3 linked regions of the Homo sapiens genome follow. The protein of the gene in region 1 purifies or fractionates together with the protein of each later gene. This does not show direct contact. Each region holds a gene or a part of one and is shown on either strand. Other genes may lie near its edges.

The links.
Region 2: the proteins of LMAN1L (region 1) and MAN2A2 purify together in Homo sapiens (affinity purification with mass spectrometry; one large-scale study listed by BioGRID and IntAct). This does not show direct contact.
Region 3: the proteins of LMAN1L (region 1) and TMEM38B purify together in Homo sapiens (affinity purification with mass spectrometry; one large-scale study listed by BioGRID and IntAct). This does not show direct contact.

What each region holds. Positions count from the first base shown.
Region 1 is NC_000015.10:74,815,744-74,819,392, forward strand, and holds part of LMAN1L (protein ERGIC-53-like precursor), read left to right. Parts: intron 1-413; coding exon 414-568; intron 569-683; coding exon 684-791; intron 792-888; coding exon 889-947; intron 948-2,974; coding exon 2,975-3,074; intron 3,075-3,408; coding exon 3,409-3,529; intron 3,530-3,649.
Region 2 is NC_000015.10:90,909,662-90,913,310, forward strand, and holds part of MAN2A2 (alpha-mannosidase 2x), read left to right. Parts: intron 1-428; coding exon 429-631; intron 632-839; coding exon 840-1,022; intron 1,023-1,185; coding exon 1,186-1,300; intron 1,301-1,509; coding exon 1,510-1,577; intron 1,578-1,723; coding exon 1,724-1,889; intron 1,890-2,381; coding exon 2,382-2,618; intron 2,619-2,855; coding exon of another isoform or gene 2,856-2,880; coding exon 2,881-3,003; intron 3,004-3,215; coding exon 3,216-3,330; intron 3,331-3,611; coding exon 3,612-3,649.
Region 3 is NC_000009.12:105,718,510-105,722,158, reverse strand, and holds part of TMEM38B (trimeric intracellular cation channel type B), read right to left. Parts: intron 623-3,649; coding exon 438-622; intron 1-437. UniProt on the Homo sapiens protein: Intracellular monovalent cation channel required for maintenance of rapid intracellular calcium release. Acts as a potassium counter-ion channel that functions in synchronization with calcium release from intracellular stores.

The sequences.
Region 1 (3,649 bases):
GTTTCGTCATCTGAGAAATGGGAAGGGTTAGACACAAATCTCTCTCGTGGTGGAAAAAGCTTGTGCTTTGGAGTCATATGGAGCTGAATTCCATCCAATCCACTTAGTTCCTTAACTTTTATGAGCCTCACCTTCCTCATCTGTTAGATGGGGTCTTATAAAAACAGACAGCACACACTGCGGTGAGGCTTCACTGACGACGTGGATGGTGCTGGCATTCATTGCCCTCCCCAGCAAAGGCCCCTCCAGCTGTGCTGGGCTCTGACTCCTGCTTCCCTGGCTGGCCGCTTATTTAATGGTAGGCCTTGGCATTGTCGCCTTCTCTTCCGGGAGCCCAGCCCGGGCCAAGTGAGAGAGTGAAGGGGGAGATGGGGTGTAGTGGAGCCTGGGGCTTGAGCTGCCCTTGTCCACAGACGCCATCCTGGGCCTGGAGGAAGTGCGGCTGACGCCATCCATGAGGAACCGGAGTGGCGCCGTGTGGAGCAGGGCCTCTGTCCCCTTCTCTGCCTGGGAAGTAGAGGTGCAGATGAGGGTGACGGGACTGGGGCGCCGGGGAGCCCAGGGCATGGTGAGTGTCCTCTCCCAGAGCTGACAGAGCGGGGTGGGTCAGGGAGGCGGGTGATGAGCCCCGGGGTCCCAGTATCCCACACGGTTCCCTGAGCTGAGGGGCTGGGGACCTGCAGGCCGTGTGGTACACCCGGGGCAGGGGCCATGTAGGCTCTGTCCTTGGGGGGCTGGCTTCGTGGGACGGCATCGGGATCTTCTTTGACTCTCCGGCAGAGGATACTCAGGTGCGTAGTGGTCTCCTGCCTGCCAGCCCGCCTGCCCGCTCACACCCTCCCCCTCCCGCCATGTCCGCGGCTCAGGCTGCTTCTCACCTCCCTGCAGGACAGTCCTGCCATCCGTGTGCTGGCCAGCGACGGGCACATCCCCTCTGAGCAGCCTGGGTAAGGGCCTGTCTGGACTGACCACTCACCTCCATTTTTGCACTGGGAGGGGCCCATCCCCCCCATCCGAGCCCCTGCCCCAGCCTCCTCCAGCAGGGGGCCCACCCTGCCGGGCCGCCATACTTGCTGGACTCTCTCACTTAGCCGACGTCCGCCCCCCTGGGGCTTGATTCCTTCGACCCAGCAGCCCCAGGTGAAATGACACAGGCTGGGGCCTGTGATGAGTATCTTTGCTCCCATGATCTCATCCCATCTCCAACACCCTCCATAAGTGGGGGGTTATTCGTCCCATTTACAGGTCAGGACATTGAGCCCAGAGAGGGGAAGGGATGTGCCGTGCGCAGTGCTGAACTTTGAGCCCAGACTTACCCCTGGAGGGTCCTCGCCCTTCCCTGCATAGCTGTCCCTTCCCTTTCCCCTGATGATTTGGCTTCTGTCCCTCCCCGGCCCTACTGCCTCCTCAGTAGCTGGGCCGGTTTGTCAGTGTCTCTCAGCAACCTTCTCTCGGCTCATAACAATTAGAGTAATTGCCTGCATTTATGGAGTGAGCTGATTGTATGCCAGGCACAGCACCAAGCCCTTCTCATTTACTGTCTTAGTTAACCCTCATAACATTGTTATGAGGTCGTTCCAATTACCATCCTCGTTTTAGAGATGGGAACACTGGGGTTTGGAGAGATGAGATGGCTTGCCCAAGGTCACATAGCTCGGGGCACAAACCCAGGTGGCTGCTGTGGTGCTGGCTTCTCCCCTGCCCTGTGCTGCCTCCCTCTTGGCGGAAGGCGGCACTGTCAGACGCTCTGCTGTGAGTAGCCTGAGGTGTCCAGAGACACTCAGCGTTTAACACTCTTCTCCTGACTCCCCAGAGCCTGCCGAGCCGACCTGTCAGGGAGGCAGCCTGGTCACATTGTCCTTGGCTGCCGGGACATGTCCAGGTCATCCGTCCTGAGTCAGCTGCATTCTGAGCCCTGGCAGCTGGGAGAGGAAAAGGAAGCCAGAGGCACAGAGGACTTGGAGTTTAAAAGAAGGAGGAGGGAGAGGCCAGGCACAGTGGCTCACGCCTGTAATCCCAGCATTTTGGGAGGCTGAGGCGGGCTAATCACCTGAGGTCAGGAGTTTGAGACCAGCCTGGCCAACATGGTGAAACCCTGTCTCTACTAAAAATTAAAAAAATTAGCCGGGTGTGGTGGCGAGCACCTGTAATCCCAGCTACTCGGGAGGCTGAGGCAGGAGAACCGCTTGAACCCAGGAGGCAAAGGTTGCAGTGAGCCGAGATCGCGCCACTGCACTCCAGCCAGGGCAACAGAGCAAGACTCCGTCTCAGAAAAAAAAAAAAAAAGAGAGAGAGAAGAAGGAGGGACGTAAGGGTGATAGGACGAGGGTGATAGGTGGGTCGGGGGAATGGAGGGCAGAAACTGTATTGTTGGTCCAGGCCTTTGTCCCCTTAAGGAAGGGCCACAGGGAGGCCCCTGGCCCCTTCTGTAAATCCAAGTCCCAACACTCCGTCAGGCAGGGCTTGCTTCCCCTGCTCCTCTCTCTTCTGCCAAGGGAGCAGGGTACAACAAGGGAGACTCAAGCTAGACAAGGTACATGTCCCATGCCAGCTCGCCCAGCGGAAAGGGAGGTGGCACAGCAAATCTGGGCAGAGTGGCTTCTGGGACTGCCCTCACTGTCCAGGCCTTGAGTCCTGTATATCCTGGCTGGATTCCAACTGCCCACAAGAGTCAGGCATGGTGGCTCACACCTGTAATCCCAGCACTTTGGCAGCCAAGACAGGTGGATCACTTGAGGTCAGGAGTTTGAGACCAGCCTGACCAACAATGTGAAACCCCATCTCTGCTAAAAATACAAAAATTAGCCGGGCATGGTGGTGCATGCCTGTAGTCTCAGCTACTTGGGAGGCTGAGGTGGGAGGATCACTTGAGCCCAGCAGGCAGAAGTTGCAATGAGCCACAACTGCACCACTGCACTCCAGCCTGGGCAGCGACTCTTTCTCAAAAACAAACAAATGAACAAACTGCCCACAGGGATGGAGCTAGCCAAGGGCTGGGCTCCTGTCATTGGGACTTCCGGAACCGGCCACACCCCTTCAGAGCACGGATCACCTACTGGGGGCAGAGGCTGCGCGTGAGTCACCCTTCCTGCTTCTGACAGGGCTCTGAGTTACAGAGCTGCTATGTGTGCGTGCCCACGGCCCCAACACACCAGTGCCTGTGACACCACGTGAGGTCCCTGGCACACACGGGCCAACATCCACAGGGGATCCTCCATCCCTACACAGAATCCTAACACTCACCCAGAGCACATACATGTAAGGGCTCACATGAGACCAGGAGTGCGGGTCACCTCCATGCCATTCTGATACCAAGCCCTAGGGCCACCTGCCATCCCACGGCCAGGGGAGCCAGGGAGTCAGAGGTAGGGACACCCCCCCACTGCTCACTCTCTCCATGTCCCTCAGATGTCCTTGAACAGTGGCCTCACTCCCAGTGATCCAGGTGAGTTCTGTGTGGATGTGGGGCCCCTGCTTTTGGTCCCTGGAGGTTTCTTTGGGGTCTCAGCAGCCACCGGCACCCTGGCAGGTGAGGATCCCACTGGACAGGTAAGAGCAGAAGGGCAGTGATGAATAAATCACCCTCAGCACACCTTCTAAAGAGCACTGGGGTGGCGTCAGCCACTTCACCACATGACCTGGGCTTCTG
Region 2 (3,649 bases), about 16 Mb from region 1:
GGCGCGATCTTGGCTCACTGCCAGCTCCGCCTCCCGGGTTCACGCCAGTCTCCTGCCTCAGCTGCCCAAGTAGCTGGGACTACAGGTGCCTGCCATCACACCCAGCTAATTTTTTGTAGTTTTAGTAGAGATGGGGTTTCACTGTGTTAGCCAGGGTGGTCTCGATCTCCTGACTTCGTGATCCACTCGCCTCGGCCTCCCAAAGTGCTGGGATTACAGGCGTGAGCCACCGCGCCCAGCCGAAGGTGCCCCTTTTATGTCAGAATTAATTCCCAGGCTCCCCTACTTCTGTTAAGTCTAGAATGGCAGGATGTACAGTTCCTGCTTCTGAGGCCAGAGCCCCTGCCTCACCCCCAACTGCAGCACTGTGGCCACAATTTGCAGGAGGCTCTAGAACTGATGGGAGTGGGTTTTTGGGGTTCCCACAGGCCCAGTTTGGCACTCTTTCTGACTATTTTGATGCCCTGTACAAGAGGACAGGGGTGGAGCCAGGGGCCCGGCCTCCAGGGTTTCCTGTGCTGAGCGGGGATTTCTTCTCCTATGCGGACCGGGAGGATCATTACTGGACAGGCTATTACACTTCCCGGCCCTTCTACAAGAGCTTAGACCGAGTCCTGGAAGCCCACCTGCGGTGAGACCCTGTCCCCGCTTCCAGGCTGGAGGGGGAGAGTCAGCCTTTGGGGTTTAAGGAGGGGCTGGATTGGCTCAGAAGGGAATAGATAGGCCCAGAGGCCAGGGCAGGTAGAGGAGGGGTGGGAAGGAAGGAGGCTGCACTGGCAGAGTGTGGGTGGGCCCTGGCTAGTGGTGCAGGCTGGCAGCTAACTTCTCTCTCTGGGCAGGGGGGCAGAGGTTCTGTACAGCCTGGCTGCAGCTCACGCTCGCCGCTCTGGTCTGGCTGGCCGGTACCCACTGTCTGATTTCACCCTCCTGACGGAAGCTCGGCGCACATTGGGGCTCTTCCAGCATCACGATGCCATCACTGGCACGGCCAAGGAGGCTGTGGTGGTGGACTATGGGGTCAGGTGGGAGCCTTCTCTTTTCCCTTGTAAGCTCCCCTGCTCACTGTCCCAAAGAAAGGACATTGGGTGGTCAGGGGGTAGGCCGGCCTAGGGCTTGTCCTGCTGACAAGGCAGACAGCTTCCCTATGGTCATCTTCTCTCCTTCCCTCTCCTGCGCCACCCACAGGCTTCTGCGCTCCCTTGTCAACCTGAAGCAGGTCATCATTCATGCAGCCCACTATCTGGTGCTGGGGGACAAGGAGACCTACCACTTTGACCCTGAGGCGCCCTTCCTCCAAGTGGTGAGCCCCTCCTGGGTCTGCATGGGGACCCTCTGGTGTGTGCAGGTCCCATCCCAAGAGCTGCTGGATGGGGGTGCCGCTTCTCTTTTTCCTTCCCCATCCGGATGAGTTCTGTGCCCAGTGCAGCCGCTGGTCCACACCTGGGACAGGTGGGGTGGGAGGAGGCTGAGCCCATGATGGTTCTTCCCTTCCGGCTCACTGAATTCCAGGATGACACTCGCTTAAGTCACGACGCCCTCCCAGAGCGCACGGTGATCCAGCTGGATTCCTCGCCCAGGTAACCTGGACTACGCCATGTGCAGAGAGGCAGAGCCATTCCCTGGCTCTCAGGCCCCTCTGCCCCAGCATGTGCTGAACCAGTGCAGGGCGCTTGCCCTGGTCGGAAGCAGCAGCCTCCTGGGTCAGCCCACCTTCTACGCACAGGTTTGTGGTCCTATTCAACCCACTGGAACAGGAGCGATTCAGCATGGTGTCCCTGCTGGTCAACTCTCCCCGCGTGCGTGTCCTTTCGGAGGAGGGTCAGCCCCTGGCCGTGCAGATCAGCGCACACTGGAGCTCTGCCACCGAGGCGGTCCCTGACGTCTACCAGGTGAGGTGTGGGCTTGTCAGGTGGGCCTGGCCCTCTGCCCGTCGTGGGCCCCTCCCCGCCCGGCGACGCCAGCCTCCCACCCTCCTGCTTGTGGCCCTGCTACTCTCCAGGCTGAGGACAAGTGTCCTGGGGAGGGGGTTGTCCAGAAGACAGGCACTCTTGGGATTTGAGCGTGTCCTTGAAAAGAAGGGGAAGGTTGGTATGGTAATAGTAATGGTAAAAATAGCAGTTATAATGCCCCATCATTCAGTCATTCAATGTTTATCGAAAGCTTAATGTGTTGTTACCGCTTCATACTTTTTCAAATATCACTTGAGAATCATAAAGTCTGATGAGGAAGAAAGGGCAAATCAGATCACCTCCACTTTGGAGGAGGGGCAGAGGCCCAGCGGGTGCAGGGGCTTGCTCAAGCCCTCTGTTAGTAAGCGGATGCCTCAGCACCCCTGTGGCGAAAGCCGTGCCCCCACTTCCTCACCCCTCCTGTGCCCACAGGTGTCTGTGCCTGTCCGCCTGCCAGCCCTGGGCCTGGGCGTGCTGCAGCTACAGCTGGGCCTGGATGGGCACCGCACGCTGCCCTCCTCTGTGCGCATCTACCTGCACGGCCGGCAGCTGTCCGTCAGCAGGCACGAAGCGTTTCCTCTCCGTGTCATTGACTCTGGCACCAGCGACTTCGCCCTCAGCAACCGCTACATGCAGGTCTGGTTCTCAGGCCTTACTGGGCTCCTCAAGGTAAAAGGCCAGGGTGGTGGGGAAGGGCCAGGGGCCAGAGTAGGGCGTGTGTGGTGGTGGCACTGTGCAGAGCGGCCTCCCGGCCCTGTGAGCATTCTGCCACCTGACCCACAGTGGACCGGGGCCTGGGCCATCTCAGCTCCAGCCTGACAGCATGGGGAAGCAGGGCACGGCTCCTTGGGGAAGCTATTCCGTGTCCTCCCAGGAGGCAGGCCTGACATGCTGGTGTGGGGCCAGGGGTCAGGGCTGTGTTTTTTGGCAGAGCATCCGAAGGGTGGATGAGGAGCACGAGCAGCAGGTGGACATGCAGGTCCTTGTCTATGGCACCCGTACGTCCAAAGACAAGAGTGGAGCCTACCTCTTCCTGCCCGATGGCGAGGCCAAGGTATCCTAAAGATGCCTTGAACAACCTGGCAGGGAGGGCAGGAGGGGGCACAGGCCTTCCCACAGGTTTATTGCTGCCTGCCAGGGGCCTTGTCTTTCCTGTTCAGCCCAGGGGTGTCTGGGAATAGGTGCTCTCTTGCCCAGCCCTGGGCTGGCACCTTCCTGCTTTGCCCTCTGTGCTGTAGTTTCAACAGCAATCTGCTCTTTCTCTAGCCCTACGTCCCCAAGGAGCCCCCCGTGCTGCGTGTCACTGAAGGCCCTTTCTTCTCAGAGGTGGTTGCGTACTATGAGCACATTCACCAGGCGGTCCGGCTTTACAATCTGCCAGGTGAGCCCTGCATATGAGGAAGGGTCTGGAAGGAGGTGTGGGCTCCACAACTGTGGCGTATTCTTCCTTCTGCTGCTTCTCTGTTCATACCTCTGTTCCGTATCATTTGAGACAGGGATGCTCCATTCTCTTGGAGAAAAAGTCATCCAGAAATGCCCTGGGGATTTCTTGGGAGGTTGGACAGAGCCTCTCCCCAGCTCGGCTCTGATCCCCCAGCCCAGCCTCTTAGCTGTGCTTCAGCCTCACACCTGTCCATGCCCCCACTTTGTTCCTGTACCCAGGGGTGGAGGGGCTGTCTCTGGACATATCATCCCTGGTG
Region 3 (3,649 bases), on another chromosome or scaffold:
AGTGATGTAAAGTTCAATGATCATGAACCCATAGTCAATCATATTTATTATTTCTAGTAATTCTGAATGAAAAAAACACAGAAAAGACAGAGCAATATTTTTTATTCATATGTACCACATAATTTCTTATGTAAACTTATTTTATTTACAGAGGCACTATACCTTAATTAACTATAAATCTTTCTGGTTCTGGGGATCTTAATCAAACCAATCATAAAAATTTTCTATCATAAGACACTCAGGCTCAAAATAATGGCTTAGGACTAGTACTAGTTTTGAATTAACTTTACCAGCCAACAGAAACAAGGTTTTTACCTTCCAAAAAGTCTCTGTTATTAAAGTATGTGATCCATTAATGTAACTAGAGAATTGTTCAGTAATGGTATTAATAATACACCAACAACAGAATATTTATGAACACATATTGTCAATATTACCTCGGGCCCATCCAATAGCTATCATGACTATCCAGCCATTTTTGTAATAGCTATTAGCATGTGTGACTCCACCTACTATTTTCCAAGTTCTGGTCACTTCCTTCATTCCCGAAGCCAGTAGTTGAACAGGTAGATATGAATAGCCCTGGGAAACTAGGTCATGCGGGCAAAAAAATGTAATATACCTGAAAATGAAATGTAAACATTTTAATATATTAATGGAATCAGAAGAACAGAAATTAAAATCTAACCTAACAGCAACAACAATTTGGCAAAACACAACAAATGGAATTTTCCATATAAACATTTAACTTGATTTCAATAAAAGCACAACTTGGGTAGGGAGGCAATTTTTTAAATCACATGAAACATATGTCATCTGCCAAAAAGTCATGATCAGAGAAGAATGTAAACTGTGGACTTCTGAATACTTTATAGATATATGAAATATTTAGTGAGCTCTTAATTTGTGCCTATATTGTTCTAGAAGCTAAGTGCTGAATCCAGTAACAAAACAAATGTATAATCATTTCCAGGGGTAGGAACTCCTACACAGTGTCTTTGTCCTCTGGGAAAATGAATTAGAGAAAGGGTCCTTTGGTAAAAGCAAGGGCTACATTTCAATCTCAAATAACATATTCACCTGTGCCCCACTGTGCAGGACATAAACTACAATCTATACAAAGGTACATGACGGCTCACAAGGAGGCAGATTTGTATTAAGGAAAAACACATTTCTATACAGCTGAAAGAATATGAAGCTGTTCTTTAATTTAGTTCACTAAGCTTAAGTTTTAACCAAATTAAACTGTGATTAAAAATAATTCATCCCATCTATGGTAAATTATTTTTTTAAACTTCATTTGTTCTAAGCATCTATTCGAATACTAGCAGTAAGATCTATTGGAAAACATACTGCTTTTTTCTCTCCATTCTCCAAATACTCTGGCTGACAATTTTGTGCTTAAAGTAGAACATATCTTCTTTCTAACGGGGTAAATAAAAGACATGGCATGAAAGAATATCATATCTCTTTTAAAAGAAGCTATTAATCTTATTGCAATTCACGATTTATAAAGTCAGAATTCTTCAATGTTCATGAAATATGAAATGTTTGCCAAAATACTGCTTCAGCGACTAAATAAAAAGATACAATAGTCTGTTTAGCCTAAAGCACCCTTTCTTCTTCATCTCCACTTACCAATTCCTTCCTACTCTTCAAGGTGCCACTCAAATATTACCATAGTCATTGACTTTGGGATTCTTATTTTATTTTAACATCTCAGCTCAGACTACATTCTGATGGCTCTGTAAAACTAAACCAATTGGTTCCTATGCCTAAAAATAGCTCTTTATACATTATTCTTTATAATATAAAATAAAGGCTATAATGCTCATAATGAACTACAATAGTTCTTAGATGACAGAAATCATTCATCTTGTTACCCTCTAACCTAAAACTCAGCATGATGAAAAGTAGCCCTGAATTAAATCATTTATTAGCAGTCAATCTGGATTCAAAATCCAAAATACAGCAAATCAAAGCATTAGTTGATAATTAAAGAGTTTGAGAAAAAAGAATAAACTATCTGAGAGTAGTAAAAAGATTTCTGAAGACCATTTGTATGGCTTTAAAATTGTACATGTTCTATAAGATTTTTAAAAACAACTAGTATGATTTAAAATTTTTACACATTCATAGAAAATTTGAAAGTCTGTATAGTTCTCTCTTTGAATATAGAACTAATTTCTAAGAAGTTGGTTAGGTAATGGGGGAAAAGTATACACACTTAATTTTTAAATGTATTTTTATATCTATTATAGATTACATTAAGAAAGGGGGATTTGTTTTCACCTTAGCAGTAATGAGCACCCAAAAGTAAAATATTCAGAAAAACAACCAAAAGAATGTTATAAATGACCCATTTTCATTCCTTACACTAAGCCTAACTTTAACGTGAGTTAAAAACCTATACTATTACAATAGCAATCTTGGACTTCGGTATTCAACTATGTGACATTATAGTATAAGACATTAAAAAATTTGCAATTATTGCAACTCTTCTATTTAATCAGATCTTTCTAAAGCACACCTACAATAAGTTAACATTTTAAACAAAAAAACTGTTTTCATTTGAGAGTTAAGTAGCCACAGGGCAAAAGAACAATTGTTTATTGTGCTCAGTAGACTTACAAGTAAACATATCAGACCAATGGCACACTCAACAACCATTCCTGCTCTATAACAAATTAGCCTTTAAAATTCTTTTAATAAATCCCTCAACCAACACTTATTAGGTAATAACCTTGTAACCCTTCTGTAAACATAATTTCACCTTTAACTAAAATTATCATATCCAAGGTAACTTTAACTTGTAAAGTGCCTAAAGAAAACATATCACAAAATGAGAGAGGAAGTGGAATGAGAAAACAACTGACTTCTCATACATTTAACTATAGGTTAAGTTAATGGAGAGAAAAAATAACGAAAGAATAAACGTCTCAAACGGGATACAAACAAGACCCTAGGCCACAAACAAATGAAATCTCAACCAGTTTAAGAAAAAGTGAGAGTAGAATTTAGGTATATACAAAAAGTTAGGCAGAGAGAAGCTTCCCAGGCTTAGTCATTGAGAACTCTGTTTTCACTCTACTATCAATTCCACTCCTCTATCGAAGACAGTATCACTTAACTAAGACAAAACACAATGATAAACTAAATACAGTTCATGTTAGTCCAGTATGACAGCTTTGTTCTTGCTCTTATCACTCCAACAAATTGAAAATTTTTTGTACATGCTTTGAAAAATACAGACAGAATGACAACTATAAAATGATACCTTTTGTTGTATTTTTCCTCATCTAAATGTAGTCTCGGTTACACAAATGTGCCATATATAAGTAATTGATACTTGGAATTTTAAGAAAAATATATAGGAAACAAAAATAAACATACTAAAAAATTATAAAATATTTATTTCCCCCGGGAACAGCTTTTCAAAACAAATAAAACCTATGAAAGTGTACACAATACTATGACATACCAAGTTATTGTTTCTCTTTGCCAGTAGATGGTGCTAATTTCCAGATGTATACACTATGAGCTACTGTACTAAAGATTACCTTGCTTGCTTGTTTAAAAACATTTCTAACATCATTTTATCTCTCAAATTAAAATCAAATGGGCAGGGCACGGTGGCTCATGCCTGTAA